Homo sapiens: one gene and its partner. The protein of the gene in region 1 purifies or fractionates together with the protein of each later gene. This does not show direct contact. Each region holds a gene or a part of one and is shown on either strand. Other genes may lie near its edges. The genes, in order: KLHL28 and CAAP1.

Region 1 (3,828 bases):
CAGAATGACTCTTGGATTGGTTTGGCACCCCTAAACATTCCTCGCTATGAATTTGGAATATGCGTTTTAGACCAAAAAGTATATGTTATAGGTGGTATTGCAACTAATGTGCGTCCTGGCGTCACTATCAGAAAACATGAAAATTCAGTGGAATGCTGGAATCCTGATACAAATACTTGGACTTCTCTAGAGAGAATGAATGAAAGCCGAAGTACTCTTGGAGTAGTAGTACTTGCAGGAGAACTTTATGCCTTAGGTGGTTATGATGGACAATCTTATTTACAATCTGTAGAGAAGTACATTCCCAAAATAAGAAAATGGCAACCTGTGGCACCAATGACGACAACAAGAAGTTGTTTTGCTGCAGCGGTATTGGATGGAATGATATATGCCATTGGTGGGTATGGTCCTGCCCACATGAACAGGTATTTAACTTAATAATTAAATTGCATATGTTTATGGATTTTTAAAAGTCTCATTAGCAATGATTTCTGAGTTTTAAACAATTTGTGTGTATGAATGAACTTCCGGCATTTGGGAAACTTAATCTGCTCCATGGATATAATTGTAATTGTTTTACATGGGAATTTAATACAAACCTAACAATCAAATCCCTCTCATTAAATTTTACATTCATTCACTATAAATGGACTAGATTTTAAAACTCAGAAACCTAAAAATAAGATGAAGTTAGACAACTTTAGATTTTGTGTGGTGTGTACATCTATGTGCACAGTATGTAAATTATCTTTTATTGTATTGCTTAATAGAATAAAGAAGTAGAAATTTAATTCCTGTGTGTCTATACAATATTATAGCACATCATAAACTTAAAACCTTATTTAAATATTCCTTTCTGAATTCTTTCCTGTAATCATACATGTATCATCAGGTATTTGACTTGTGCTGGAGTTTGAATTTGTGATATCTGTATTCTGTAGTTTTATCTGAATAAAGGAGAAATATATATGAGAAAATAAAAGTATGAAGTAACTAGTTATATGAGAAATTAATCGTAATTCTGAACCTTTATTGAAAATTGATGTTCCAAAGGTTTTATCTTTGGCCAGGTGTGGTGGTTCACGCCTGTAATCCTAATACTTTGGGAGGCTGACGTGGGAGGATTGCTTGAGCCCAGGAGGTTGAGGCTGCAGTGAGCCTTGAATGCACTACTACACTCCAGCCTGAGCAACAGAGTGAGACCCTGTCTCAAAAAAAAAAAAAAAGAAAGAAAGAAAAGAAAAGATTGTATCTTTAATAGTAATTAGAGTGGTTTGTGTTATTTTGATTGTGAGTATTTTAATGACAGGGCATACAGTCAGCCCTCCATATCCACGGGTTCTACATCCACAGATCCATCCAACTGTGGATCAAAAATATTTGAAAAAATTTACAATAATAAAAAACAAAATAATACAGTATAACAGCTATTTGCATAGTATTATAAGTAATCTAGAGATGATTTAAAGTATACAAGAGGATACGTGTAGCTTATATGCAAATATTATACTGTTTTATATAAGGAACTTGAGCATCTGCAAATTTTGGTATCCTTGGGATGGGGTGGATCCTGGAACCAATCCTCTACAAATACTGAGGTTTGTTGACTGAGAAAGTGATGGCACAACAGCATTTCATCTGTAAATTTTTACTTCTATTGAAGCCAAAGTATTCCTCCTTTTATTTATTTATATTTTTTGCCCTTAGTTGAAGGAAAAATATGGGACATAGACATGCATTTCTATTCTTTGAAAAGCTTCTGCCCAAAATTTGTAAGATAAAAGGTTAAGTATTTTAAATTTGATTATCTTGAAAGTCTTGCTGCAGTGCATCAACTCTTCTTCAATGATTTTGGTCTAATGGATTCTATCCTGGAGTTCTTTCAGAAACATTACCCAGTCTCTATTATGAACTCCAGAATGGTGTCACAGCCTGTTAAATGCTTATGGTTTTTTCAGGAAATAGGTTAGGGCCAGAACAAGCCCAACAATCTTACCTCTGTGCCTTTGTGCACCTTCAGAGGAAACCATAGTCTTAAACAGCTGCTAGAATTTTCTAGGGAAGCCTTTTTGAAAATTCTGATTTAATTTGGATTCCATAATGCAGCTTAGAAATGCCACACGTTCTCTGAAACACAGTCTTGACTCAAATTCCTGAGTACTCCTAAATCACCCTGAGATAATTATGATCAGCCAGTTTGTACTATGCAATCTACAGTGATTGCTTTGCAGTAAGCCACATGAATTCTCCTGTGACGAAAAAAAATAAAGGTTTTTCTCCCCACCCCCCACCCCTCTCTTCCTCTTCTTTTCCCCTTAACTGTATAGAAGATCCTAAAAACCTCTGTATTCAAGCCAGGCATGGGGGCATGTACCTTTAGTCCTAGCTACTCAGGAGGCTGAGGCAGAAAGATCACTTTAGCCCCGGAATTTGAGGCTGCAGTGAGCTCTGATCTTGTCACTGCACTCCAGCCTAGGTGACAGAGCGAGACCTGCCTCAAAAATAAATAAATAAAATTTAGGAACAAAAAAAAAAAGTCTGTATTCAGTTAGTGGTTTTCAAAGTCACGTGCATACTCATTTGACTTTATTCTTATATGAATCCCTTCAGGTTGCACTATCCTCATTTTTGCAGGTGAGAGGAAATGACTTATTCAGGATTACACAAATCCACAGCAGTAGGGTTAAGGTTCGTTCAGCCCTAGGTATACAGAATTAGTACTTGAACCCAGGTCTTCTGACTCCAAGTTCTATGCTCTTAATATACTTTGCCGCTTGCACAATATAATGGAATAGCATATGGAATTGCACCTTGTTTACAAGGTAAGCTTTTATCTTTGCAATCTTATCAGCAAAACCTAAGCATTTGTGGCAGACTACTCTTGTTTAATATCTCTCTATTATGTGAACTTTTAAAGCTGTAGTGGGTTTTAGTTTTGCTTTGACAGGAAGAATGACACAAAAGATCTGTAAATTAAATTTTTTTTAAATATTTGCAGTGTGGAGCGTTATGATCCAAGTAAGGACTCCTGGGAGATGGTTGCATCCATGGCAGATAAAAGGATTCACTTTGGCGTGGGTGTCATGCTAGGCTTTATTTTTGTGGTGGGTGGACATAATGGAGTCTCACATTTGTCCAGCATTGAAAGATACGATCCTCATCAAAATCAGTGGACTGTGTGTAGACCAATGAAAGAACCTAGAACAGGTAATAAGAATTTATTAATTTCTAAACATGTAAGGCAATGTTTTCTATAATGATGTGCTTGCAATAATAGTTCCTTGGAATATAGCAGTAGGAATATTACTTGTCCAGAAAAAAAAAAAAAAAGACTTGTATGTGGTAAACTTGAAAGACAATTAGCTAGACAAAAGTATATAGATTTCTTTATTGTGACTTTTATATGCCAATGTGCATATTATTGTTTCTCAAACTTGCTGAATACATTTTGGGAAATGCTTATACTAGAGTGTGTATTTATAGAAGCTCCTTTTGTCCATGTAACAAATGTCATCTTTTCATATGTTACATACATACAATCCTCGGATTGTTCTGTTTTGTTTTCTATTGTATATCAGTAATCTGTATGTTCACTTTCAAATGTTCTTTCTTCCCCAGGGGGTATAGTTGATCAAAAAGGGTTGTATTTCAGAGTTCGTAGAAACAAAACAAATCCACTTTTGTGGTTTAGGAAAAATTGTTATCTTTGAACTCAAACTCATCACATCATTTTAAGGGAAAGGTTTTAAGATACTGACAGAAATGCTTTAGGGAGCACTCCTCATACAGATTGAATATTTCCTATCCAAAATGCTTAGGACCAGAAGT
Region 2 (3,828 bases), on another chromosome or scaffold:
TAACTGATGACAAAACTAATAAACAGCAGTCCTTCCAAAGTAAACCACAAAATAGGGAATAAACAAAGGGAAAAAAAATCAACAGATTTAGCTAAATGTTAATATTTCTGAGAAAAAAAAACACCATAAATAAAATTATAAGACAGGAAAACTACAAAAAAAGGACAAATATAAGAATATATAGAATGTAGGTATTATTAAGAAACAAAAACATGGGCAAAGGGTAGAAACAAGTCAGATATTTCACAAAACTGGAAATACAGAAGGCAATACACACGTGGAAAAGAATGCTCAACCTAATTTCTAATCAGATAAATGTAAATTAAAAAAATAGTGCTTTTGGCCGGGCACGGTGGCTCACTCCTGTAATCCCAGCACTTTGGGAGGCCGAGACGGGCGGATCACGAGGTCAGGAGATCGAGACCATCCTGGCTAACACGGTGAAACCCCGTCTCTACCAAAAGTACAAAAAATTAGCTGGGCGTGGTGGCGGGCGCCTGTAGTCCCAGCTACTTGGGAGGCTGAGGCGGGAGAATGGCGTGAACCCGGGAGGTGGAGCTTGCAGTGAGCCGAGATCGCGCCACTGCACTCCAGCCTGGGTGACAGAGCAAGACTCCGTGTCAAAAAAAAAAAAAAAAAAAAAAAAAAAAAAAAAATATTGCTTTTTACTTACTAGTAAAAACGAGGATTTTTATCTGTCTATAAAAGAAGCTAGTACATTGCTAAGATGAAAAAAAATGACCAAGATATATTTTTAAGTCAAAAAAGTAAGCCAAAGAGTGATAATTATGTTTTTGTTAAAAATAAAATAAATAAGTTATTAACAGTGATTACTTCTGGGAAGGGGAGTAAAAGAAGAAGAAAAATTGGCCGGGCGCAGTGGCTCATGTCTGTAATCCCAGCACTTTGGGAGGCTGAGGCAGGCAGATCACCTGAGGTTGGGAGTTCGAGGCCAGCCTGACCAACATGGAGAAACCCCGTCTCTACTAAAAATACGAAATTAGCCAGGCATGGTGGCGCATGCCTGTAATCCCAGCTACTTGGGAGGCTGAGGCAGGAGAATTGCTTGAACCTGGGAGGTGGAGGTTGTGGTGAGCTGAAATCGCATCATTGCACTCCAGCCTGGGCAGCAAGAGTGCAACTCTGTCTCAAAAAAAAAAGAAGAAAAATTAATTTTCCCATTTTGCTCTGTGAACATGTATTTCTTCAACCTTTTACAAGAATGAACTGTAAAAAGCGTTAAAAGAAAAAATGAATTTACAGTATAACAAAAAAGATATAATGTAAAGATTAGAAATTTTATGGTTTTCACAAAATATAAGTAGACAGGATCAAATTGACAAAAGAAAGGAAAATCATAGCCAAAGACACCATAGATAAGTGTAAGTCTTTCTTTTTTCTTTTTTTTCTTCTTCTTTTTTTTTTTTTTTTTTTTTTTTGAGACAGAGTCTCGCTCTGTCACCCAGGCTGCAGTGCAGTGGCGCAATCTCGGCTCACTGCACCCTCTGCCTCCTGGGTTCAAGCAGTTCTCTGCCTCAGCCTCCATAGTAGCTGGGATTACAGGCACCCGCCACCACGCTCGGCTAATTTTTGTATTTTTAGTAGAGGTGGGGTTTCACCATCTTGGCCAGGCTAGTCTTGAACTCCTGACCTTGTGATCCACCTGCCTTGGCCTCTCAAAGTGCTGGGATTCCAGGCGTGAGCCACCGTGCCCAGCTGGTAAGTGTAACTCTTTCTTGAGTCTTGGAAAGAAGGAAGAATTGGCTGTGGAACAAACAACATGGCAATTAAAATTAAATTCATTTTGAATAATTAAGCCAACTGAACTCCTCCTCCTTTCCCTCCTTTTCACGGCCATATATCCAAGCACTCTACTCTGAGAGGCCTACCCCTCATCCATTTTATATCAAAGAAAAAGATCTGTTAGAGAAATAAACAACTGCTCAAAAAAACCAAACCAGCTACCAGAAAAACATAGCTAAAACAAATGAAGGACCAAGATAAACAAAAGAAGAAATAAAATTCAGGGATCAGAAGATAATCTTTTGGAGAAAAGGGAAGAAGAGAGTCCATTTAATATCCTTATGAGAGAGACTAATGTGGACACTGCAGCCATAAAACAGGGTGCAATGATAAAAAGCCAGAGACCAAGAATTGTTAGAATTTAAAATTACAGATATCGGCCAGGCGTGGTGGCTCATACCTGTAATCCTAGCACTTTGGGAGGCTGAGGTGGGTGGATCACGAGGTCAGGAGTTCCAGACCAGCCTGACCAACATGGTGAAACCCCGTCTCCATTAAAAATACAAAAATTAGCCGGGTGTGGTGGCACGTGCTTGTAATCCCAGCTACTCAGAAGGCTGACGCAGGAGAATCGCTTGAACCCTGGAGGTGGAGGTTGCAGTGAGCAGAGATTGTGCCACTGCATTCCAGCCTGGGTGACAGAAAAAGCAAATATTCAGCAGTGCTGGGAGATCATGTTAAGGAAATATCTCAAAATCCAGAAAAGAAAAATATTTTTAAATGTGCAATAAAAGTTAAGAGATGAAGATGAACAACTCATGAAGTCCAACATGAACTGAGTATAATTCAACAAATATTACTGAGCACCTGCTGTGTACAAGACACTGTTTTAAGCACCAAGGAAACAGCAGGGAACAACAACAAAAATCTCTGCCCTACATTTAAGTAGTAGAGAGAGAGTAAAAATACATAAAAATGTCAGGTGCAATGAAGAAAAATAAAACAGGATAAGAAGACAGTAGCAGGATGACACTTTCACAGAGAGTGATCACTATGATCTGATAAGGTACCATTTGAGCAGGGACTTGATAAAGTGACAGAATAAGTCAGAAAGCAAGAAAGTAGATAGTGAAAAGGGAAAATAAAGAAATAATCTGGATAAAACTGTTAGGAGGTGAAGAAGGCCGTCACCCTGAAAGGGCTTGCCACGTGTAGAACATCAAACCTAAGACACATCCTGTGAAATAGAATTCAAGAATAAAAAAAGTTCCTGAAAGTTGCCACAGAAAAAAACTAGATTACAGACAAAAGCATTACAATGGTTAGGTTCAGGGAATCAAGAGTATTCTCATCAGCCACTGTAGACAATACCCAATCTCAATGGATACTGACATGATCACAAAAAGAAAAGCAATTATATATTATGTGCTGGAAGTACACAACGTCACTTCTAAATATTCTTACCAGAAAATTGAACCTGAGTCTGATCAAGCCTCTGAATCAACTACCGTTTACCTCTTCTCCACCCCCTCATTATATTATTCAGCTCTTCATTCATTATCTCGCAACAACCCCTAGTCTGAAAAACAAGTCACATTTTTCAAAAATTTGTATTTTAAAATATTTTATACAGCCTGTAGTTTCTTATTCAGAATCAGTGACTATACACTTTAAATTTTAGGTAAAGCCTCGGAGACACTAAAGTTAATTTTTTGAGGCTGTGAACAACTTAGCACTTATTTTCTTTTTTTTTTGAGACGGAGTTTCACCCTTATTGCCCAGGCTGGAGTGCAATGGCACGATCTTGGCTCACCACAACCTCCGCCTCCCAGGTTCAAGTGATTCTCTTGCCTCAGCCTCCCGAGTAGCTGGGATTACAGGCATGTGCCCCTACGCCTGGCCAATTTTGTATTTTTAGTAGAGATGGGATTTCTCCATGTTGGTCAGGCTGGTCTCAAACTCCTGACCCCAGGTGATCTGCCCACCTCAGCCTCCCAAAGTGCTGGGATTACAGGCATGAGCCACTGCACCTGGCCTTATTTTCTTAAATCTATTTTAGTCTCAAGTTAGAATACTTGTATAAAA

The links.
Region 2: the proteins of KLHL28 (region 1) and CAAP1 purify together in Homo sapiens (affinity purification with mass spectrometry; one large-scale study listed by BioGRID and IntAct). This does not show direct contact.

The regions. Positions count from the first base shown.
Region 1 is NC_000014.9:44,930,712-44,934,539, reverse strand, and holds part of KLHL28 (kelch-like protein 28), read left to right. Parts: coding exon 1-425; intron 426-2,998; coding exon 2,999-3,207; intron 3,208-3,828.
Region 2 is NC_000009.12:26,844,027-26,847,854, reverse strand, and holds part of CAAP1 (caspase activity and apoptosis inhibitor 1), read left to right. Parts: intron 1-3,828. UniProt on the Homo sapiens protein: Anti-apoptotic protein that modulates a caspase-10 dependent mitochondrial caspase-3/9 feedback amplification loop.